Linked DNA regions of Homo sapiens: regions 1, 2, 3, 4 and 6 are each linked to region 5. Evidence: fine-mapped expression QTL. A gene starts in region 5. Each other region holds a variant in brackets. All regions are shown on one strand. Distances are from middle to middle.

The links. PIP is the estimated chance that this variant, and not a neighbour inherited with it, causes the effect.
Region 1: its variant is the best candidate, but not a certain one, in a credible set for the expression of CCR1 in whole blood (INTERVAL, PIP 0.75).
Region 2: its variant is the best candidate, but not a certain one, in a credible set for the expression of CCR1 in whole blood (INTERVAL, PIP 0.90).
Region 3: its variant is the best candidate, but not a certain one, in a credible set for the expression of CCR1 in whole blood (INTERVAL, PIP 0.78).
Region 4: its variant is the best candidate, but not a certain one, in a credible set for the expression of CCR1 in whole blood (TOPMed, PIP 0.64).
Region 6: its variant is the best candidate, but not a certain one, in a credible set for the expression of CCR1 in whole blood (TOPMed, PIP 0.82).

What each region holds. Positions count from the first base shown.
Region 1 is chr3:46,071,660-46,075,768 of GRCh38, forward strand. It overlaps a transcript of XCR1 not described here. Among named protein-coding and RNA genes, the nearest start is that of XCR1, 46 kb to the left of the region's middle. The variant CTTTTTTTTT/C (reference allele first, on the strand shown) is at 2,555.
Region 2 is chr3:46,230,828-46,234,936 of GRCh38, forward strand. It overlaps a transcript of CCR3 not described here. Among named protein-coding and RNA genes, the nearest start is that of CCR3, 9.6 kb to the right of the region's middle. The variant A/G (reference allele first, on the strand shown) is at 2,447.
Region 3 is chr3:46,164,946-46,169,054 of GRCh38, forward strand. The region is part of intron 1 of LOC105377067 (a long non-coding RNA gene); the gene reads left to right. Among named protein-coding and RNA genes, the nearest start is that of CCR1, 41 kb to the right of the region's middle. The variant G/A (reference allele first, on the strand shown) is at 1,873.
Region 4 is chr3:46,280,865-46,284,973 of GRCh38, forward strand. No RefSeq gene overlaps it. Among named protein-coding and RNA genes, the nearest start is that of CCR3, 40 kb to the left of the region's middle. The variant T/G (reference allele first, on the strand shown) is at 1,584.
Region 5 is chr3:46,206,709-46,210,708 of GRCh38, forward strand. CCR1 (C-C motif chemokine receptor 1) reads right to left here and starts at 1,605. Exons shown (of 2, transcript NM_001295.3): 1 at 1,574-1,605. It also overlaps a transcript of CCR3 not described here.
Region 6 is chr3:46,082,214-46,086,322 of GRCh38, forward strand. It overlaps a transcript of XCR1 not described here. Among named protein-coding and RNA genes, the nearest start is that of XCR1, 57 kb to the left of the region's middle. The variant A/C (reference allele first, on the strand shown) is at 2,538.

The DNA of each region.
Region 1 (4,109 bases), 130 kb before region 5:
CAAATCAATACATGTGATTCACCACATAAACAGAACTAAGGACATAAGCCATATGATCATCTCAATAGATATAGAAAAACCATCTGATAAAATTCAGCATCACCTCATGATAAAAACACTCAACAAACTAGGCACAGAAGGAACATACCATAAAATAATAAAGCCCCATATATGACAAACCCATAGCCAACCTCATACTGAACGGTGGAAAGTTGAAAGCATTCCCTCCAAGAACTGGAACAAGTCAAGAATGTCCACATTTACCACTCCTATTTAACATAATACTGGAAGTCCTAGCCAGAGGAATGAGGCAAGAGAAACAAATTTTAAAAATCCACATTGGAAAAGAGGTAGTAAAATTATTTCTGCTTGCTGAGGTTATGATCTTATATCTAGAAAATACTAAATCCTTTAGATTTAATAAATGAATTCAGTAAAGTTTCAGGATACAAAATCAACAGACAAAAATCAGTAGCATTTCTATAAACCAATAATGATCAAGCTGAGAACCAAATCAAGACAGCAATCCCATTTACAATAACTAAAATTAAAACAACAACAACAACAAACCACCTTAGGCTGGGTATGGTGGCTCATGCCTGTAATCCCAGCATCTTGGGAGGCTGAGGTGGGCAGATCGCTTGAGCCCAGCAGTTCGAGACCAGCCTGGGCAACATGGTGAAATCCTGTTTCTACAAAAAATACAAAAAATTAGCTGGGCATGGTGGTGCACACCTAGAGTCCCAGTTACTTGGGAGGCTGAGGTGGGAAGATTGCTTGAGTCTGGGAGGCAGACATCGTACCAATGTACTCCAGCTTGGGTGGCTGAGAGGGACCTTGTCTCAGTGAAAATAAAACAAATAAAAACAAAACAAAAAATCCTGGAAATAAATTTAACCAAGGAGGTGAAAGAGCTCTACAAGAAAAGCAGCAAAACACTGATGAAAGAAATTATAGATGACCCAAATAAAAGGACAAATATCTCATGTTCATGGATCAGAAGAATTAATATTGTCAAAATGACCATACTGCCCACAGAAATCTACAGATTCAATGCAATTCCTATCATTAGAAAAATGATGTTGATAATTTATTGGAATTAGAAACAAATTCTAAAATTTGTATGCAACCAAAAAAGAGCCTGAATAGCTAAAGTATTCCTAAGCAAAATGAACAAAGCTGGAGGCATCACATTATCTGAGTTCAAATTATACTACAAGGCTATAGTAACCAAAACAGCATGGTACTAGTATAAAGGTAGACATATAGATCAGTATGACAGAATAGAGAACCCAGAAATAAAACCACATATTTAGAGACAATTGATCTTTGACAGAGCTGACAAAAACACACACTGGGGAAAAGATACCCTGTTCAATAAATGGTGCTGGAAAAATTGAATTGCGATATGCAGAAGAATGAAATTGGAACCATATCTCTCACCACATAAAAAAATCAACTCAAGATAGATTCAAGACTTAAATATAAGACTCAAAACTATAAAAATACTAGAAGAAAACCTAGGAAAAACGAGACATTGGTATAGGCAAAGAATTAATGACTAATATCTCAAAAGTACATATGACAAAGACAAAAATAGACAAGTGGGACTTAGTTAAACTCTTCTGCACACCAAAAGAAATAAATAACAGATGCTGGGTGCAGTGGTTCACATCTATAATCCCAACACTTTGGGAGGCTGAGGCGGGCAGATCACTTGAGGCCTGGAGTTCCAGACCAGCTTGGCCAACATGGCAAAATCCCATCTCTACTAAAATATTAGCTGGGCATGGTGGCACACACCTGTAATCCCAGCTACTTGGGAGGCTGAGGCATGAGAATTGCTTGAAGCCTGAGAGCCGGAGGTTGCAGTGAGCTGAGATCATGCCACTGTACTTCATCCTGAGAGACAGAGTGAGATTCTTAAACAAAAAACAAAAAACAAAAACAACAGAAATAAACAACAGAGTGGACAGAGAGCCTGCAGAATGGGAGAAAATATTTGCGACTTATGCATCTGACAGGGGACTAATATCCAGAATTTACAAGGAATTCAAACAACTCAACAACAACAAAATACAAATAACCCCATTAAAAAGTGGGCAAAGGACATGAATAGACATTTTAAAAGAAGATATACAAATGACCAAAAAGCATATGAAAAAATGCTCATTATTACAAATCATCAGAGAAATGCAGATGAAAACCAGAACATGATACCATCTTACACCAATCAGAATGGCAATTAAAAAAAAAAAACCCAACAGATACTGGTGAAGATGTGAAGAAAAGGGAACTCTTATACATTGTTGGTGGGAATGTAAATTAGTACAACCTCTTTGGAAAATAATATGGAGATTTCTCAAAGAACTAAAAGTAGAACTACCATTGAATCCAGCAACCCCACTACTGGGTATCTACCCAAAGGAAAAGAAAATAGTTATATCAGAGATAACTTGCACATGCATGTTTATCACAGCACAATTTACAATATATATGCAATGGAATTATTATTCAGCCATAAAGCAGCAACACGAATGGAACTGAAGGCCAT[CTTTTTTTTT/C]TTTTTTTTTTTTTTTTTGAGACAGGGTCTCTTTTCTGTTGCCCAGGCTAGAGTGCAATGGCACAATCATGACTCATTGCAGCCTCAACCCCCAAGGCTCAAGTGATAGAGGTCATTATCTTAAGTAAAACAACTCAGAAACAGAAAGTCAAATACTGCACGTTCTCCTTCATAAGTGGGAGCTAAATAATGTATACACATGGACATAGAATGTGGAGTAATACACACTGGAGACTCAGAAGAACGGGAGGTAGTGGTGGGGGGTGAAGGATGAGAAATTATTTAATGGGTACAATGTACATTATTTGGGTGATAGATACACTAGAAGCCAAGACGTCATCATTATGTAATATATCCATGTAACAATGCAATTGTACCACTTAAATTTATATTTTAAAAAAAATCATAAGGAAGAAAAATATATTTACTATTCATTATGTGGAAGTAGGTCATCATAAAGGCTTTCATCCTCATTGTCTTCACACTGAGTAGGCTAAAGGAGGAAGAGGAAGAGGAGGGGTTGGTCTTACTGTTTCAGGGGTGGCAAAGGTAGACGAAATTTTGGATTTAAGTGGACCTTCCCAGTTTAAACCCATGTTGTTCAAGAATCAACTGTACTGTGAACAACTCTACACACATAAAACTTGTCAACTTAGATGAGATAAACCCACTCTTCAAAAAGCACAGACTACTATAACTCATCTATGAAACAGATAATTTGAATAGCCCTGTAACTACTAAGGACATTGAATTCATAATTAAAATCTCCCAAGAAAAAAATTTCCAGGCCCAGAGAGTTTAACTGGAAACTATTTCAAATATTTAAAGAATAATTAGCACTTTGAAAAGGAATGAAATGGGAAGAATCACTCTACCCAATTTTAAGACTTATTTCATAGCTATAGTAATATGTGATATTGGCAGAGGGACAGACACAAAGATTAATGGAAGAGAGTTAAAAAAACCCAGAAGTAGCCCCACACAAGTATGGCCCACTGGTTTTTGACAGTGGTGCCAAAGCAAGTCAATGAGGGAAGGATAGTCTTTTCAACAAATAGTGCTAGAGCAACTAGATGCTCATAGACCAAAAAAAAAAAAAAAAAAAAAACAACAAAAATCAAAACCAAGAAACCTCAATCTAAACCTTTGACCTTATACACAAATTAACTCAAATTGGATCATTGATATAAATGTAATGGATAAACTATAAAACTTTAAGAAGAAAACATAAGAGAAAATCTTTGAGACCTAAATCTTGGTGAAGAGTTCTTGGACATAACACCAAAAATATAATACATAAAAGAAAGAATAGATAAACTATTAAAATGAAAAACATTTGCCCTGCAAAAGGCCCTGTTAAGACCATCTCCAGAATGGGAGAAAATATTTTCCAACCACATATCAGACAAATAGCTCATGTCTAAAATATATATAGAATCCTCAAAATTCAACATTTAAAAAGAAAACAAAACAAACAAACAAAAAACAACCAATTCAGTTAAAAAATAGGAAATGACTTGAAGAGACATTTCATGGAAGAGGATTT
Region 2 (4,109 bases), 24 kb after region 5:
CTCTGATCTTTTCCAGGGCAGGGACCTAGGCACATGTTTTTATTCATTCAGGATTTGTGCTGCTCAAAACAGATTTTGATCCGTTTTTTGTTTGTTTTGTTTTTTGTTTGTGTTTTTGAAGGTGTCTCGCTCTGTCGTCCAGGCTGGAGTGCAGTGGCGCGATCTTGGCTCACTGCAACCTCTGCCTCCCGGGTTCAAACGATTCTCTTGCCTCAGCCTCCCGAGTAGCTGGGATTACAGGCACACACCATCACACCCAGCTAATTTTTGTATTTTTAGTAGAGAAGGGGTTTCACCATGTTGGCCAGGATAGTCTCGATCTCTTAACCTCATGATCTGCCCTCCTTGGCCTCCCAGAGTGCTGGGATTACAGGCATAAGCCACTGTGCCAGGCCCAGATTTTGACAAGTTTTAAAAGTGCCCAGATTAATCTTGTGGATGAGATGCAAAACAGCACTCCATATGGAAATGGGCTGTGCACCCCTCCCTACATGACTTTCTGAGAATCCTGATCGCCACTGCAGTTTATAGAAGGCTCCAAAACACTTTATTACTCAGGTGTGAACAAAGCAGAGATTACATCTTCCCACAATAAGAAATATTTCTGGTTGTTACTTGTAGGAAAAGGAGCGGTTAGCTTCAATATCTATTATCTATCTATCTGTATTAGTCAACGAGCACAAAGTTTCAGTTACAGAAGATGAATAAGTCCTAGAGATGTACTGAACAGCATGGTGCCTCTAGCTAACAACACTGCATCGTATACTTAAAAATGTGCCAAGAGGGTAGATCTTACGTTAAAGTAATAATCTTGATAAATAGGACAGGAGGAAACTTTTGAAGTGATAGTTGTGTTTATGGTATAGATTATGATGAGGGTTTCACAGGGGTATATTTCTCTCCAAACTCATCAAGTTGTATAGATTAAATATGCACAGCTTTTTGTATATTATACTTCAATAAAGTGGTTTTTAAAAAAGATCCATTATTCATCCACCCCTCTTATCTTGTTTCAGGAGAAACAAGATCTATTGATCTATCCCATCTCTTTCCCTGCCCCAATGTCTCTCTTGCATTTCCAGGGGCCCATGTGACAGTGTGAGGTACCATGGAAATAAGAACTTCACATATTTTACTTGGGTAACATTATATGAATTTGTTCCTGTTTATTGGAAGTGCATTGTTTTTGCATTTAATTAGGAAGTATTTTCCATATCCTGGGGAGAAAAATGTATTTTCTGCATAATTTCTAAATCATTGTTCAATTTTTTTCTTCATCGTCATATTTATTTACTGAGTTTGATACTAGATTTTTGATGTTCTTATAAAAAAATGAAAATGAGCAAAATGAAACACACAGAATGGTTAGAGGAACAAGCAACAACACAATCCCTCACGGGAATGCCCTGAAGGAATATGTTGAAGCTAATTTGAACATGAAGGTTACGTCTGTCCAGATCTCTAAAAGCAGCCACCAAGCAGGTTTTACACAGGGAAAGATTTTGTTGGAAAAGCACCTGGGAGGGAAAGTGGGCTGGAGCAGGAAGGGCTGGGAAAGCCGGCAGAACCCCAGTGAGGTAGCAGGGGAACCAAGCGGTAGTAGACGCATCCTAGACTGTTCTGCAGCCTGAGGAAGGTTTGGCATAGCCACGTGGGGGTCCTTAAGCTAATGTCAGTGCATCTCTAGGGATTGGGCCTGCCTCAGTATCCCTGTGTGCTCAGTCATTGGAAGCACAACATTGATTTCAGAGCCTGCAGAGGGGTCTTAGGCTTTCTGGAGTGGGAGGGGCATGTTCATGGCTGCACCGGTGGTTTGCCCCATCCTTGGTGCCATTCTGGATGTGATGTTGCACTGATGGTAAATATCAAGGCCCAGATCAATGCTAGACTCTTGTTCACCTGTTATCTTGAAATCACAGGTGGCCCACCACCTCCCCCAATAGCACAGCTTCCACGTTCTCACTCCTGTCTCTTTTGTAGAATAGGCTATCTATCAGGGGAATAATCCTTTTTTGTGTTTTTCTAGATGAAGTCTTGCTCTGTTGCCCAGGCTGGAGTGCAGTGGCACAATCTCGGCTCACTGCAACCTCTACTTCCTGATTTCAAGCAATTCTCCTGCCTCAGTCTCCCGAGTAGCTGGGATTATAGGCACACGCCACCACGCCTGGCTAATTTTTGTATTTTTCGTAGAGACGGGGTTTCACCATGTTGGCCAGGCTGGTCTCGAACTCCTGACCTCGTGATCCACGTGTCTCAGCCTCCCAAAGTGCTGGGATTACTGGCGTGAGCCACTGCACCCGGCCCATAGTCCTTTTTGTAAAGCTTTCACAGGAGGGTGACGTGCTGTCAGTGGAGGGAACACAGAAATACACAGGATTGCCAACGTGCTAGAGAGGGGCCCTGCTGGCTACAAAAGTCCTTCCACTAACTTCACTAGAAAAGTGAC[A/G]GTAAACACAAGTCTGGCTGGAGCCCCACATTTCTGGCCCTGGTGCCCGGGAAGGAAGGTGGGTGCATTAAAGGAAGCTTTGCACTTCTCCCTGCTGCTCTGGCAATCGTTTCCGTTCACATGCTCAAGGTTGTGGCTTGACCTATGCTCTCCTGCAAAATATTGCTGACCCTTTCCTATTTCTGAGGTTCTTTGCTTTTCCCCTCCCATGTTCCCATACTCCTAAGCTATCTTCTGCGTGTGTTGTTGTTGTTTTGGCTCTTTTTTCCCGCCCCCCAGAAATGTGTCTGCTTCAGTGTAATGTGGCAGTGAGAATCTGGGAGATTGGAAGACATTTGTGTTTGGTTGGGTTTTCCCACACACCTCTGTTTTTCCTGTGAGCTAAGAACCCCAAAAGAAGCATCAAAAATTTCTTTCCCGTGGTAGGAAAAGCCAGGACAGAACGAGCCATTCTGGACCTTGGGGAAACCACTTTGTGTTCTGGTTTCCTTCAGGTTTGATGCCATCCTCACCTTTGGCTGAAGGGCAACAGGCAACTCTTCTTCAGACGGCAGTACCATGCCGGAAAACAGAGCACCATGTGGCTAGCCCAAGCTCTGGGGTAGAGCCAGCTCTGCCCTTCACTCTCTGTGGCTTTTGCCAAGTCCCTCATTGAGTCTCAGCTTCCCCATCTGCAACACAGGGGTAAGGTAGCAGGGTTGCAAGAGCATCCTGCCACCTCCTGGGCTGCAATGGATACCCCGTCAAGGTAAGACAATGGACAGGGGGCAGTATGCCCTTGTAGTGCCTGTGCATGCATCAGGCCGGCACTGCTCAGAGTGCTCCTGAGGCATCCTGACCTTGAGAGATGTTAACACTTGTCATTTGAAAAGTATTTTTTTTCTAAGTTAAAGATAGGTTTGAGAAATGCTGGATTAGGAAGGTTTCAAACAGATTCATCACTACAGGACTTCTCAGGGGCCTTTAATGCACTGTGAATCTCCAGGAGTGTTTTCTAACAGTGCATGCTTTTATCCTAAGAGACATTAAATGTATTGGGATGGATTCATTGGTTTAATCAATGGGTAGTTCATGAGAAGCTTCAACCTGAAAGGCCTGAGGGCTCTTGATACCCAAGAAAGCCCAGGGGAGATCCTTGACATCTGTGAAACATCAGATCCAAGATCTCCCAGAGTGACCACATACCCTTTCAGAGTCCACTTGGGCTCCAGATGTTATCTGGAGCCATATTTCTACCAAGAATTTATGTGGTTGTGCTTATCCTCACATAAATTAAGCCTCGTTTTAACATTCTATAAAGCTTAGTCTTGCAATTGATGAGCACTCATTGCCCTAACTGGAGCACCCCACAAAATACCCCCTGATTTCCCTTGTTTTTATGTGGAACACACAGTAGAGTCACTCCCATGAAGATCTGAGTCACTGCTGAATTCCATATTCCTGTCGATAATTTATCCCAAATTTATGTTTTCTGCCCCAGAACCACTGCTTTTTAAGATTTCTTTATTATGGCTTTCCTTCCACCACCATCACCAGCATTTAGCTTGTTTTATGAAGAAATGAAGCTCTTTGGTTGTTTAAATCACTTCTGGGGAATTCTAAGGCTACAGTGAGTGGTGAGGATGGAGTTGACCAGGTCCACTCACCAGGTGGAGGGCTCACG
Region 3 (4,109 bases), 42 kb before region 5:
GAATTGCCACACTGTCTTCCACAATGGTTGAACTAATTTACACTCCCACAGCAGTGTATAAAGGTTCCTTTTTCTCCACAACCTCTCCGGCATCTGTTATTATTTGACCTTTTAAAATAGCCATTCTGACTGGTGTGAGATGGTATCTCATTGTGGATTTGATTTGCATTTCTCTAATTATCAGTGATATTGAGCATCTTTTCACATGCTTTTTGGCCACATATATGTCTTCTTTTGAAAAGTATCTGTTCATATCCTTTGCCCACTTCTTAATCGGGTTGTTTTTTGCTTGTACATTTGTTTAAGTTCCTTGTAGATTCTGGATATTAGACCTTTGTCAGATGTATAATTTGCAAATATTTTCTCTCATTCTGTAGGTTTCCTATTTACTCTATTGATAGTTTCTTTTGCTGTGCAGAAACTCTTTAGTTTAATGAGGTCCCATTTGTAAATTTTTGCTTTTGTTGCAATTGCTTTTGGCATTTTCATTATGAAATCTTTGCCAGATTCTGTATCCAAAATGATATATTCTTGGTTTATTCCAGGGTTTTTATAGTTTTAGGTTTTACATTTAGGTCTTTAATCCATCTTGAGTTGATTTTTGTATATGGTATAAGGAAGGGGACCAGTTCCAATCTTTTGTATATTGCTAGCCAGTTATCCCTGCCCCATTTATTGAATAGGGAGTCTTTTCCCCATCGCTTATTTTTGTCAGCTTTGTCAAAGATCAGATAGTTGTAGGTGTATGGCTCTATTTCTGGGCTGCCTATTCTGTTCCATTGGTCTATGTGTCTGTTTTTGTACCAGTACCATACTGTTTTGGTTACTGTAGCCTTGTAGTATGGTTTGAAGTTGGGTAATGTGATTCCTCCAGCTTTGTTCTTTTTGCTTAGGATTGCTTTGGTTATTTGGGCTCTTTTTCAGGTTTTATATAAATTTTAGAATAGTTTTTTCTGTTCTGTGAGGAATGTCATTGGTAGTTTGATAGGAATGGCATTGAATCTATAAATTGCTTTGGGCAGCATGGCCATTTTAACAATATTGATTCTTCCTACCCATGAGCATGGAATGTTCTTCCATTTGTTTGTGTCATCTTTGACTTCTTTGAACGTGTTTTGTAATTCTCATTGTAGAGATCTTTCACCTTCTTGGTTAGCTGTATTCCTAAGTATTTTATTCTTTTTGTGGCAGTCGTGAATGGGATCATGTTCCTGATTTGGCTCTTGGTTTGGGTGCTCTTAGAGTATAGGAATGCTACTGATTTTTGTACATTGATTTGTATCCCCAAACTTTGCTAAAGTTGCTTATCAGCTCAAGGAGCTTTTGGGTGGAGATTCTGGGGTTTTGTAGATATAGAATCATGTCATCTGCAAACAGGGATGGTTTGACTTCCTCTCTTCCTATTTGGATGCCTTTTGTTTCTCTTGCCTGATTGCTTTGGCCAGAACTTCCAATTCTATGTTCAATAGGAGTGGTAAGAGTGGGCATCATTTTCTTCTGCTGGTTTTCAAGGGGAATGCCTTCAGCTTTTGCCCATTTAGTATAATGTTGGCTACGGGTTTGTCATAGATAGCTCTTATTATTTTGAGGTATGTTCCTTTAAGGCTTAGTTTATTGAGGGTTTTTAACATGAAGCAATGTTGAATTTTATTGAAAGCCTTTTCTGCATCGATTGCGATAATCATGTGTTTTGGTCTTTGGTTTGGTTATGTGATGAATCACATTTATTGATGTGTACATGTTGAACCAACCATGAATCCCAGGGATAAAGCCTACTTTGATCATTGTGGATTAGGTTTTTGATGTGCTGCTGGATTCTGTTTGCTAGTATTTTGTTGAGGATTTTTGAATCTATGGGTCATCAAGGATATT[G/A]GCCTAAAGTTTCCTTTTGTGTATGTGTGTCTATGTCAGGTTTTGGTATCAGGATGATGCTGGCCTCATAGAATGAGTTAGGGAGGAATCCCTCCTTTTCAAATTTTTGGAATAATTTCAGTAGAAATAGTACCAGCTCTTCTTTGTGCATCTGGTAGAATTCAGCTGTGAATCCTTCTGGTCCTTGGCTTTTTTTGTTGGTAGGCTATTTATTACTGATAATTTCCAAGCTCGTTATTTGTCTGTTCAGGGACTTATTCTTGACTCACTGTTGGGAGGATGCATGTGTCCAGGAATTTATCTATTTATTTTAGATTTTCTAGTTTGTGTACATAAAGGTGTTCATAGTAGTCTCTTACGGTTATTTGTATTTCTGCAAGGTCAGTGATAACATCCTCTTTGTCATTTCTGATTGTGTTTATTTGAATCTTCTCTCTTTTCTTCTTTATTAATCTAGCTAGTGGTCTATCTTATTAATTTTTTCAAGAACAAATTCCTGGATTTGTTAATCTTTTGTATGCTTTTTCATGTCTCTATCTCTTTCAGTTTGCCTCTGATTTTGGTTATTTCTTGTCTTCTGCTAGTTTGGGGTTTGTTTGCTCTTGGTTCTCTAGTTCTTCTAGTTGTGATGTTAGGTTGTTATTTGAGATCTTTCTAGATTTTTGATGTGGGCATTTAGTGCTACAAAATTCCCTCTTAACAATGCCTTAGCTGTGTCCCAGAGATTCTCGTGTGTTGTGTCTTTGTTTTCATTAGTTTAAAATAACCTCTTGATTTCTGCCTGAATTTTATTACTTACCCAAGAGTCATTCAGGAGCAAGTTGTTCAGTTTCCATGTAATTGTATGGTTTTGAGCAATTTTCTTGGCCTCAATTTCTACTTTTATTGTGCTGTGGTTCGAGAGTATAGTTAGTATGATTTAAATTTTTTTTGAGTTTGCTGAGGATTGTTTTATGTCCAACTGAATGGTCAATTTTAGAGTACGTACCATGTGGCAATGAAAAGAATGCATACTCTATTGCCTTTGGTGGAGAGTTTTGTATATGTCTATTAGGTCCATTTGTTCAAGCATTAAGTTCAGGTCTGGAATCTCTTTGTGAATTTTTTGGTTTGATAATCTGTCTAATACTGTCAGTGGGGTTTGAAGTGTCCCATTTTATTGTGTATAAATCTCAGTCTCTTTGTAAGTCTCTAAGAAATTGCTTTATGAATCTGGGCACACCTGTGTTGGGTGCTTACAGAGTTAGGATAGTTAGATCTTCTTGTTTAATTGAACCCTTTACCATTATGTAATGCCCTTCTTTGTCTTTGTTTTGTTTTGAGATGGATCTCACTCTGTCACCCAGGCTGGAGTGCGGTGGCGTGATCTCGGCTCACTGCAAGCTCTGCCTCCCAGGTTCCTGCCATTCTCCTTCCTCAGCCTCCTGAGTATCTGGGACTACAGGGGCCCGCCACCACACTCAGCTAATTTTTCTGTATTTTTAGTAGAGACAGGGTTTCACTGTGTTAGCCAGGGTGGTCTCGAGCTCCTGACCTTGTGATCTGCCCACCTTGGCCTCCCAAAGTGCTGGGATTACAGGTGTGAGCCACCGCGCCAGGCCCCTTCTTTGTCTTTTTTGTTCTTTGTTGGTTTAAAGTCTGCTTTGTCTGAAATTAGAATTGCAACCCCTGCTTTTTTGTGTTTTCCATTTGCTTGGTAGGTTTTTCTCCATCCTTTTATTTTGAGACTATGGGTGTCATTGCACAAGAGTTGGGTCTCTTGAAGACAGCATACTATTGGGTCTAGCTTCTTATCCAGGTTGCCACTCTGTGCCTTTTAACTGGGGCATTTAGCCCATTAACATTCAAGGTAAATCATTGATACGTGTGGTTTGATCCTGTTATCATGTTGTTAGCTGGTTACTATGCAGACTTCTTTGTGTGGTTGCTTTACAGTCACTGGTCCATGTACTTAAGTATTTTTGCAGTGGCTGGTAATGGTCTTTTCTTTCCATATTTAGTGCTTCTTTCAGGATCTCTGGTAAGGCTGGTATGCTGGTAACAAATTCCTTTAGCATTTGTTTGTGTGAAAGGAGTCTTATTTCTTCTTTGCTTATGAAACTATTTTGGCCAGATGTGAAAAAATCTTGGTTATAATTTCTTTGCTTTAAGAATGTTGAATATAGGCACCCAATCTTTTCTGGCTTATAGGGTTCCTGCTGAGAGTTCTGCTGTTAGTCTGATGGGCTTCTATTTGT
Region 4 (4,109 bases), 74 kb after region 5:
GGTGATAGAGTTTTGATGTGACTTTGTATCATCGTAGGCAGAATTTGGCCCAGAACCCACCTTGTGATTTTCACCAGTCTCCAGTGCAGTGTTAGAATGAACATACTTAGTAGGCCGGGCGCAATGGCTCACGCCTGTAATCTCAGCATTTTGGGAGGCCGAGGCGGGCAGATCATGAGGTCAGAAGTTCGAGACCAGCCTGGCCAATATGGTGAAACCCCATAACTACTAAAAAAAAAAAAAAAATACAAAAATTATCCAGGCATGATGGTGCCGGCCTGTAGTCCCAGCTACCCGGGAGGCTGAGGCAGAAGAATCGCTTGAACCTGGGAGGCAGAGGTTGCAGTGAGCCAAGGTCGCGCCACTGCACTCCAGCCTGGGCAACAGAGCAAGACTCCATCTCAAAAAAAAAAAAAAAAAAAAAAAGAATGGGATTCCCATTAGGCTTTCAGACAGTAAATAATGGCTACAACAGAGGAAGGCCCAAGTGGAAGCCACTGAAGGCCCCCTGCCCATACAAAGCAGAAAATCAAAAACAACGCTCTATCCTATGAAGAAAATAGCAGATTAGTCTCATCACAGATAAGAAAGACACAGATATGTTGATTCCTGTCATACCTCCTTTTAATGCTCCAGTTTTGCCAGTAAAAAAATTTAAAAAATAATAAAATAAAATAAATTGATGGGTCTTGGGGAATAGCCATGGAATGTTACGACTAAATCAGATGGTGACTTTCACTGTGTGTGTTGTCTTCTAAGTTTGGTCCCCTTGCTGAGGCAAATCATTACAGTCATGGTATTTGGCATGTAGATGCCAGTCTAGAGTAGGGGCTGGCAAGCTTTTTCCTAAAGGGCCAGATAGTAAGTATTTTAGGCTTTCAAGCCAGCTGGTCTCTGTCACAACTACTCAACTCTGAAGTTGTAGCAAGAAAGCAGCCACAGACAACATGTCAGTGCATGGGCACAGCTGTGTTCCAGTAAAACTAGTTTTCAAACACAGGCACCTACACACTGGAGTTTGCTAACTTCAGATCAGGAAAATACAGTTTTCTCCCTTTTGGTACAGAGAGGCACCCAAAGAAGCAGTTTGTCTCCAGCTGTCAGGAGCAGAGTACACGCTGCCATCCTGCCTGGGAGTGATGCTACTTTCAGGTGATTTGCCTCACTGTAATCTGCAGGGACCTTGTGACTGCATCACCTGACAGGACATCACTTTGGTCCACATGGTTAATATTGTGCTGAGAGGACCTGGGAAACGGGAATAACAAAAACCTTCAATGTCTTGATAAAACACACGGCTGACAGAGAGTGAAAGATAAAGCCGGAGAAAATATCAGAGTCTCCAACTTCAGGCAAGAGGTGAGGTCCAGTGAAAGCAGATAGCCTCAGTGTGTGGAGTCCATGCCTGGTCTCCTTCCCTGTGCCACTGTTTACGCTGTTCATGAGCCTCTGAGAAATCATCTGGCTGCCATAGGAAGGGTGACCCAGCATGTGCTATTTTCCAAGTTTCTTCCATCCTGGGGGGCATTTTGGTGAGAATTCACATGAGATATGAACATTTTTAGGTTTGGGTCTCATTCAAA[T/G]AAATCCATTGACATACTCCTCCAAATCTTGATAACAATTTTCCATTTAATTCCTTCTGTCTTCCCTTACATCTAACCATATATAATAAACACTTTCTAGAAATATGTGTAGATTCTGACCCTTGGTGATCTCTCCTTCGAAGCAAAGAGGACACTATGATAAACACCTTGATTTCTGCCACCTGGGAGGTGTCTTCTCCACTTGTCCTTTAGGGCTACCCCTGAGAGGGGCTGAATCTAACACAATCTACCTCAGGTTGGTGCAAGCAAAGTGCAGAGTCCTCTATCCATAAGACAGGCATGAGTGTTTTCATCCTCAGACAGATCATCGCAGCCAACTTCCTGGGAGGCCACAGGTCCAGGTGAAGGGAGAGGATGGCAGTTGTTGGGACTAGGGATGGGATAGGCATGAATAACCTGCCCATGCTGCCTTTCGAACCTGTGTGGATTACATCCTATATAATCCCACTTCCCCTTTATGATGCAGTGTTATTGGGTCTCTCTGTGGCAAAGTAGGTCAGGTGGCAGTCAGTTCATAATAAACAACCTGAGTGTCATGGTAAGCTGGTGTCTCATAGTCAAACTCTCAGAGTCCCCTGGAGTCCAGTAACAACCCAGGACTTATTTTTTTGCTGAAAGGGATGTAGCATTTCTTCGCCCTCCAAGGGGCTGCTGCCATGCTCCTGTCCAGGCTTGTATCCAAAATTTGACTCAAGGAGTTCAAGAATAGCAAAAACGGGTGTCATCGCAAAGTAGAATACCCAGTAGTAGTAGTAGCAGCAGCAGTAATAGCAGTAGTAGCAGTAATAGTAGTTGTTGTTGTTGCTGTTGTGATTCAGGAAAAACTCCCAGAATGGAAGTACACAGGTCTGTGAGATGAAGGGGGTACCAAGTACCCACCAGGATAAATGGACACAGACCCTCTTCCGAGCACATCATTATGAACTTTCAGAACAACAGGGATAAATATATTGAGAGCTTTTAAGAGGGGGAAAAACAGGTAACAGAAAGGAATAGAAATGGACTTGACATCAGATTCTCAATGACAACATTGGCTGATACAAGACTGTGGGGCAACAGCATCACAGTTTTGAGAAAATATTATGTTCAGCCCAGAAATCTCTACAGAGCCAACGTATGAGATCCACTGAGGCTTGAATATAGATATTTTTAGACACAGAAGGATTTTGCAATTTACCTTCCATTTACCCATTCTCAAGAAGAGACAAAATATATGCTTTAGCAAAATGAAGAGGTAACCAAGAAAGAGGAGATCCTAGGATCTTAGAAATGAGTTCAACACAGGACAGTGGCAAAGGAATCTCCAGGACCTCCACAGAAGCCTGTCCAGACTGGTATTGAGAAAGGACATGAAATTTGTAGGTTTCGAATATTTTAAAAAATTATTGTTGGGCCCATGACAGATCAAATTTGAGCATTTTGGAAATTGGTGATAAGTATTTTTACAAAGTAAGCAGATGGAAAAAATCAAAAGAAACTACTATTAACTCCAAGAATATAAAACATTAGCTCAACAGTGAATAATACTTATGTGGTCATAATAACATGAACACTGACTAGTCATTTAACCAGAAACTGTCAAAAAACCATATTGAGAGGATGTTGGGAGGGGAAGGAAGTGTAAGCTAAATCCTCACCTACAAGAACAGGAAATCAATAAATTCTGTCTAAAATTGATACATTATGAAGTAGCAATCAATATAAGCATGTTACTTAACACTTAGGGCAGCACCAGAGAAACAGCCAACAGAGTTGAAAGTGGTTGCCTCATAGGAGTGGGCAGGGGTGGGGAGGGGATGGGGCAGGAAATGCTATTTCTAATTTCTTAACTATGCACTATTACATCTTGATAACTTTTTCTTTTTGGACGGGGTCTCGCTCTGTCACTCAGGCTGGAGTGCAGTGTCATGATCATGGCTCACTGCAGCCTCAACCTCCCAGGCTCAAGCAATTCTCCTGCTTCAGACTCCCAAGTAGCTGGGACTACAGGCGCACACCACCATGTCTGGCTAATTTTTGTATTTTTTTATAGAGACAGGGTTTTGCCATGTTGCCCAGGCTGGTCTCAAACTCTAGGACTCATGTAATCCACCTGCTTTGGCCTCCCAAAGTGCAGGACTACAAGGCATGAGCCACCTCAACTGGCCTGTAACTTGATAACTTTTAAAAACTTGATGTTATTAGGTGAAGAAGTAAGAGCAAAAATATAATAAAATAAGAATAGAAGAGTATGATTAAACTATAAACACAATTCCTTACTGTGTACCAGACACTGACAATTGAAAGACATAAACACAAACTTGGCCATTCACTCCTTAGTAACCAAACACAGAGAAAACACTTCCCATTATAGATGCTAGAATATTATCAGATTATTAGAGCAATACTAAACTAGAGGCCAACCAACTACACATTTTGGGAAATGTTGAATGGTCCAATGTTAGCTAAAAATCAGTACCTGGCCACGCTAAGGCCAAAACTGTCACCATCATAGAAAAAATTGTT
Region 5 (4,000 bases):
CAGGCAACCACTCCAAGGCATGCTGTTCCTAAAGGGAGGTGATCTGGGGTGGGGCCCGAGAAGAGAAACCAAAGGACCATGTTGTCATCTAATCTGCCAGCCCTGCTGTAGTCTACTGCAGAAGTCTGCCTCAAGGCCACTGCACAGTGGTCAGCTATAGCCCTGGATCCTGGACCCTCCACTGCTAGTGTCCTCCAGCCTGGGAGTTGGTGAAGTCTCTGAGCAGAGATAGAGCAGTCTGTGATGGTGAAAGACACCCAGGCCTATGGTGCGCTGGCTGGCTTATACTGGTTTATAAATGCCAATTGCGTGCATCTCTTCCCCACTCCACATTCAGCATGTTGGTAGCTTGAAACTGACCACAGTGGGGGCATTTATACCATGAAAATCAACAAATGTTATAAAGCAGGGATCTTTTCTTCAGAAGAGTCAGTTGTTGAACATTTACCAGCACATCACTGCCCAGGCCCCACATTCTGAACAGTCCAGCACTGTCCCACTGCTCGGTGCGGGAACTAAAGGATCAGTGAGTGGCACATAGCCTGGTGCCAGGTTGTGCAAACTTTTGGGAGTTTCCATCTCTTCTTTGAAATCTGGGACCCACCAAGACCACCTATGAAGTAGATACCTATACGGAGCCACCATGCCCCTCTATCTTCAGAACAAAATCCTGACCTGTGTCTTTGTTAGTAGAGCAGAACAGATGCCCCCCAAGATCACCTGGCCAGCTCCTTGCCTTTGGGTGAGTGAAAGCCTACCTCTTCCAAAGATAGCAGTGCCAATTTTGAGGATCCTTGGTTCTAGTCTTCTTAAGAGATAGGTTCAGTATCAAATCATCCTTGCATCTGCCAAGATTTTTCTAGCTAATATTTCCCTCTTGCTATAATTTCTTCATACACCATGTTTGGTTTTCCTTTACATGGGGGAATTTGGCAAGCAATTTTTTTTTTTTTTTCAGACAGACTCTTGCTCTGTCGCCAGGCTGGAGTGTAGTGGTGCAATCTCAGCTCACTGCAACCTCCACCTCCCGGATTCGAGTGATTCTCCTGCCTCAGCCTCTTGAGTAGCTGGGACTACAGGCATGCGCCACCATGCCCGGCTAATTTTTATTTTTAGTAGAGACAGGGTTTCACCATATGGCCAGGATTGTCTCCATCTCTTGACCTCATGATCCACCTGCCTCGGTCTCCCAAAGTGCTGGGATTACAGCCGTGAGCCACTGCGCCCCGCCAAGTAATTTCTTATTGAATAGGTTTCCACAGAAAACACCTTTTGTCCCTTAGTACTGACTGACTTTCTTAATCAGTAACCAAAAGCCAATCCTTCAAGTAAGCTTCCTTTTTAGCAAAAAAGCCTATATTTCATCTGAGCACCCAGCTTTATAAATCCACCATTCTCAGTATTGCTACAGTATTAATTGCCTTGGAGATGCATCCATGGGCTACTTAGACATTTGCCCAGCCTACTCAAAGAATTCCCCCTACCTTTGAGGAGCCCCTAGCTGCATGCATGTCTTTGAACAACACTGCCCTCCACAGTAACAGATAAGACAGAAAAGACAAGTGACACTTACTCTGGTTCCAAGGGACTTTGTCCGTGAAGTCTTTGTTTCTGGGGCTTTCTGGGTTTTTATGAATTCAAGTTTCAAGATCCTGACCAAGTAGGAAGTACTCAGCTTCCTGTGTGATGATGGAGAATTGGCTCCAGTTTCACAGTCTTTCAAAATGACAAGAAAGGGACAAAGTTCTTCTTTTTGTGTGGTTTGGTGCTCATGAATGGCCACAACGCCCACCAGTGGCCACTTCCTGGAAGCCAAGTTAACTGCGAGGATTTTCTCTGCTCACTCTGAGCCTCTTGAGTCTTGGCCCTGGGAGCTCAGCCTTAAGGGAATTGGGGGCAGGTGAAGCTGAGTTGGGTGAGGTGGGTGGCAGTGAGATGTTCCCAGAATGTTTGGAGCAATTGAAGTGTGGGATGTGTGTATGTGGGATGGGGGCAGGGCATAGAGCTCTTGTGGTCAGCGGCAGACTTCTTTTTTTTCTTCTTCTTAAAGATTGTGAATGGAAGGATTTAAACTGGAACCCTGAGTCCTGTTCCTCAAAACTAACTGACATGGGTGCTCACAGAGGCAGCAGCTTCTCTTTGGCACCCTATGCCCCTCGGCTTCTGGGAGCTCATTGTCCCTCTGCTCTCTGCTCCCCAAGTCCCTCCCCACCAAACCTCAGAGAGTGGCTTTGCCCCAGGAACCTCCAGCATGAAGGGAATATAGGTCTGTTGGTTACATTTTGACCTTCCCTTTCTGATGCCCCATTCCTGTTTTACGTGATGGTCAAACATGGGCCAAGTTCAAATCCCAGCTCTCCACCTGTGACATGGGCAGATCACTCACCTTTCTAAGTCTTGGTTCCTACTCTGCTAAATGGGAGTATTGAATGCTTACCTCAGAGGAGAAGCACGAAGTCAACTTGTACATGAAAAATGTCAGAGTGCCTGGCACAGTGAAAAATGTCTGACAAATGATGAGTACTGTGACTCTCCTCACAACTGCCAACACCTACTCTGCCTCTGCCCTTGTGTCTTCTATAAAGTGGGGACACCCCTAACCTTCCTCACGGCATTGCTACAAAGCACTGTTTCAGAAATCATCAGTGTGAATGTGCTTTGAAAAGATCACTTGTCTCTTCATGGTTCAGTTTTCTTATCTGTAAAATGAAGAATTCAGACAAGATGGCCTAAGCTTGACATCTGATCATCACTCAGCTTCACCCCAAAGAAATAAATGGGGGTCTGCATGTGCCTGGCTATTTGCAGTACTTTGCTGGTGGATCAGTTTCCAAAGAGAACAGAGGCTTGTGAGGCCTGCCTTTTCCTTGATCCTGTCTAAAGTAAGGGACATGGTCAGTACCTCATCCTTGACCAGGCTTCCAGCTCTGCTCTAGGTTTCATTCCACAGAGGGGATGTACCAGGCAAATCTGCTTGTTCATTGAACAAATATTTATTCAGTACTCACAATGTGCCGGACATTGTGTTAGGTGCTTGGGATATAGTGGTGAAGAAAGAGGCTGGATCCATTCTTTGAGAGCTTATAGCTTAGGAAGGATCACAAACAATTAACCAAGTTACCACAATGAGGAACAGCTTTTGTAGTGGCCTGGGAAATACCCTGGGCTAAGGAAGGGTGCATCGAGGGTGGGAAGGGGTGAGGAAGTCCTTTAGAGCAGTGGTTCTCAAAGTGAGGTCCCTGGACCAGCAGCATTCACATTCCCTGGGACATTGCTAGCCATGCAAGTTCTGGGGTTACATGCCAGATATACTGACTCAGAAATCCTGGGGATGCGGCCAAGCAATCCAGGTTTTGACAAAGACTGGCATGATTCTGATGCATGCTTAAATTTGGGGGGCATGGATCTAGATTTTCTCAATGCTTTTGGCTCAGAGTCCCATGTGATCTTTCTTCAGAAGAGTTAGGCTGGACCAGCTATGAGCTAGGAAGCCTTCTTTCTCTCTTTAGCTCAAGGCCTAAACAAGAGGCTGCTCAGTTGCCTGCTCTGTCTCCCCTCCCACACCCACACTCAGGTCTCCTATGGCCTTGCAAACCCCTTAGTGCACACACCCCTCTCACCACAGCAGATGTGTACAATGGGGGCAGCACAGAGAGACAAGAGAGAAACCAGCAAAGAGGGATGACCTTGCTCCATTCATTTCTCTTAAAAGCCCTTTGACTCCTCTCCTTAAAAGCTGTAGTGTTCTCTCAAGGTTGCCGTATTGTCCTTGATCCACATCAATGTTCCTCTTCCTTGGAGAGAAGGGGGAGATGTGGGCAGCTTCCTTTGCCCCAGAGAGGTTGCAGTGGAAGCCCAGCACTAAGCCAAACCCTGTCCTGAGACAGCCTTCCACCCCAGCCTTGGCACCAATGTTCAGGGAAGAGATGCAGGGGACCCTGCCAGTGGTGGATGTGGATGACTCTGTCTTTAACACCTGCAGAGCTCATGGACCCTGGCC
Region 6 (4,109 bases), 120 kb before region 5:
AGATACCAGACCAAGCCTGTATAACTTGTTCTTCATGATTCTAATGCCTACCACACCTGAAATATTTGCTCTCCTTTTTCTATTGACTGGAATACTTATGGCGTTAGGCCTCCATACTGTGAGTATCCTCTCTTGGATAAAATTGTTTTGGTAAAATCATCATATATATATTTATATGTGCATATATACATGCATACACACACACACACACACACATATATTCTCTTAGGATATATGTAAACAAATGCCTATAATCAGGCTCCTTTTTTTTTTTTTTTTTTTTTTCCTTTTTTTAGAGATGGGGTTTTGCTCTGTTGCCCATGCTGGAATGTAGTAACATGATCATAACTCACTGCGGCCTCCAACTCCTGGGCTCAAGCAATCCTCCCGACTCAGCTTCCCGAGTAGCTGGGGCAACAGAAGTGCACCACCACACCCAGCTAATTAAAAAAAAAATTGTAGAGAAGGGTCTTGCTATGTTGACCACACTGGTCTCAAACTCCTGGCCTTAAGTAATTCTCCCACCTCGGCCTCTCAAAGTGCTGGGATTACAGGCATTAGCCACTGCACCTGGCCTAGGTTTCTGTTTTTGCCGTCCCTGATAAATTTGACTGTAGCATGGAGGGATAATTCTCTGATCAGAATCCCACACACCATTGCCACTGCTGGAAATCTGAAGAGATGCTGGGTTTGCTACCCTAAACCAAAAACTACTTTTGACCACAATGACCCACTGGTACATTCTGCCCTAAATTTCACCAGTGTTCATGATAGCACTTGTAACACAACTCAGGGCCACATAAAAGCAAACCTGTTAATCAGGTCTGCCTGACTCATCCTAACCTGTTTGTCCTATGTTTCAATGTAACTCATCAGAATTCTTTTGTCAAAAATCACTGCTGCGTTACTCACTAATGACAGTACTAAAATCCATGATGTTGTTAGAAAATCCAAAGAAAACAGCCCCTCCAGCTATCAGGATCCTGTCTTCTTGCTTTAACATTTCTGACCCATTGATCCAGTAATGCCTCAAAACTGATGTTCTTAAATTATAGTGTACTTATCTGTGCTCCACCAGGATTTATTATAGTCTGTGGAGAAAATCACCAGCCATGGTCCTGTAAGTGTCTAAGAGCATGGAATGTTGAAGGGCAATATGTCTTAGGATATTTCGTTACCCTTCTCTCTATATACAGCTCTGAAGAAACTCAGCACTGGACTAGTTCCCTCAAACTTTTCTCTAGGCATGACTGCAGATCTACCTTAGATGGAGATTCTATTTAGAGAAAATGTGCTAATTATCTGGCTGGCCATCAAGAAGATAGCTCCATGCATTTTTTTTTCTTTGAGAATACTTTTGCCTTTGTTGGATGTAACTTCCCATGAACACATGATCTAAAATCCTTCTAAAACCCTAGGAAACATTGCTGATGAAACTGCTGTCTCCATCACAGCTCAACAAAAAGCTACAGATTTACTGACTAAGGTTGTGCTAGACAATCACATTGCTTTAGATTCTATATTAGCTGAGCAAGGAGGTGGATATGTGGTGGCAAATACCTCTTGTTGTATATACATAAGTATTTCCCATGAAGTAGAAACTCACCTAGGAAAAATCAGGGAAGAAGCTGCTTGACTACAGGTCTCTAAAGAAAAACTGAGATTTAATTTTCTTCAGGAGGTTTTTAGTTGACTCTTAACAGACTAGATTCCTTTTTCATTCTGGCATAAAAATTCTCTTTTTGGTTCTAATCCTATGTGCATTATATATTTCTATTATTCCAATTAATGCTAGATATCTTTCATTGTTTTATTTCTTCTGAGAAAATGAAAATCATGGTATTCCAGAGACTGGCGATGATGGAGCAAACAACAGCAGCTATGTAAGTCAATACTTTGTGGACTCACTTTTGCCATTCTGTATTGTCATCCTGATTCAGCTTTTTGGTGCTCTTAAAATTCCTCACTGAGATGTCTCCACTCCCCCATGTGGGACAGGGCTACCCAGGAATGAGCCTTCCTGGTGACAAGGGACAAGCTGGCACTCAGATTTGTATCATCAGTGCTTTTGAGGAGAAAAATTTGTGATCAAAAGGAAGGAAATGAGAGCAAAAGGAAACTTTTAATCATAGGAATGTGAGCCCTTTTAAATTATCAGTCCCAGAAAAGCATTGGAATGAAAAGCTATCACATCTCATGCCTCCCTTGAGCTAAGTAATTACCTCTTGAAGCCACTTGCTATGTGGACTCTAGACTAACTGATGCCAAGTAGCTATAAAATGCCATGCACTGGACGCCATAACTCATATCCTCCAGCTCAACAATGTAAAGCCAATCCCTAATCAATGTAATTTCTATAAACCAATGAGAATTCCTGCCAACTTTTTATCAGCTCACTCCTTGCTTTCTTTTTGTCTTTAAAAATCCACTTGTACAGATGTAGCTGGAGGCCATTATCCTAGGCGAATTAATGCAGGAAAAGAAAACCAAATACTGAATGTACACGCTTATAAGCAAGAGCTAAACACTGGGCACAC[A/C]AAGACATAAAGACGGAAACCGTAGACACTGGGGGCTACTAGAGGGTGGAAGAAAGGAGTGGGGTAAGAATTGAACAACTATCTTATTGGGTACTATGCTCACTACCTGGGCGATGGCATCAGTCATACCCCAAACCTCAGCATCTTGCAATATACCCATGTAACAAATGTGCATATGGTACCTCCCGAATCTAAAATAAAAGTTGGATTTTTTTTTTAAAGCCTGAATGCAACAAAAGCTGGATGGAGTACTCCCCAAGGCAACTTGGAAGGGTGTCCTGGGCAGCTGGCCTCACATTGGCTCAAGTAAAGTCTTTAAAATTACATTTTGTGCTCAGCTTCTTCATTTTAGGTGGACAGCACTTGCAGAAAACCTTGCCCCTCTTAAGGAGTTCCTGTAATCATGATAGCTAATACATGGAGCAGCCTATGTCTGCTCTAAGCATTTGACATATATTATTAAAAAAAAAAAAAAAAGGTTCCATCACCGCAAACACAACTCATCACACCGCGAACACAAGAGGCAGGTACTAATGTGATCTACATCTATACAGATTAGGGAACTGAGGCACAAGGAGGCAAGTAACTTGGCCAAAGTCATGCAGCCAGGGAGCATCAAAGCTGGCTTCAGTCTTTATTCCTAACCAGCCTCTTGAATTCCTCTGATGCTTTCGATCTTATCATGACAATTGTTCTGCAGCCTGTATTGTGGTCCAAGTATTTTTTTCTCCATTTTAAACACTTTGAGTTTGCACTCCATCCTGTCTGCCCCTCCCCTTCACAGCAAATTTCTTGAAAGAATAGGCCACGTTCACTCTCCTTCCAGCAGCAAGCCTGCCATCAGTTTTCACTCCCAAGGTCAGGAGTCTGGCCTTGGCCTGGCTCACTGATCTGCCTGTGCACTGTTCCCCAATACTCCCACTCACTTCCATGTCTCAACAATCATGCATAATGCCGGCACCCCCAACCCCATACATTCAGTCCAAACCTCCCTCTTGAGCTACAGATCTACAGTGGTCAACCTTGGTGTAGGGCCTCCTTACTTGGTGTAGTCCTTGGTGTGACAGCAGCATCTGGGAGCTTGTTAGAAATGCAGTTCTGGGCCCAACCCAGACATGCTGAATCAGACTCTGCATTTTAGTAGGACACTCCCCTGACCCAGCAGATTCTTGGGCACAACAGAGTCTGAGCAGTGTGATGTCTTGTGACATAGCAGTTACTGTAATGCTCTCCCATGCCTCTACCTGCTGGTGCACCCATGCCTTAGGTGCTAAGAGTCCTGGCTGCTAACTTCTCATACCTGCACTCTTCTCTGGAGGATGGCTCAAGCCCGTCTGCACATTCCAGTCACCTGGGGATATATTAAAATGTCCAAAGCCAGGCCCCACCACAGGCCAAGGAAATCACAATCTCTGAGGTTGGGATCTGACATCAGCATTTCTGAAGCCCAAGAGTTGCCCTTAGACAGACATGTTTGGGACTCACTACCATAGCTGATGGGTGCTGCCTTGCTTAGAGGTTCTGGAGCTTTCTCATACTCCTCCCAGCTGCCCATGACTAGCGGCTGACTGA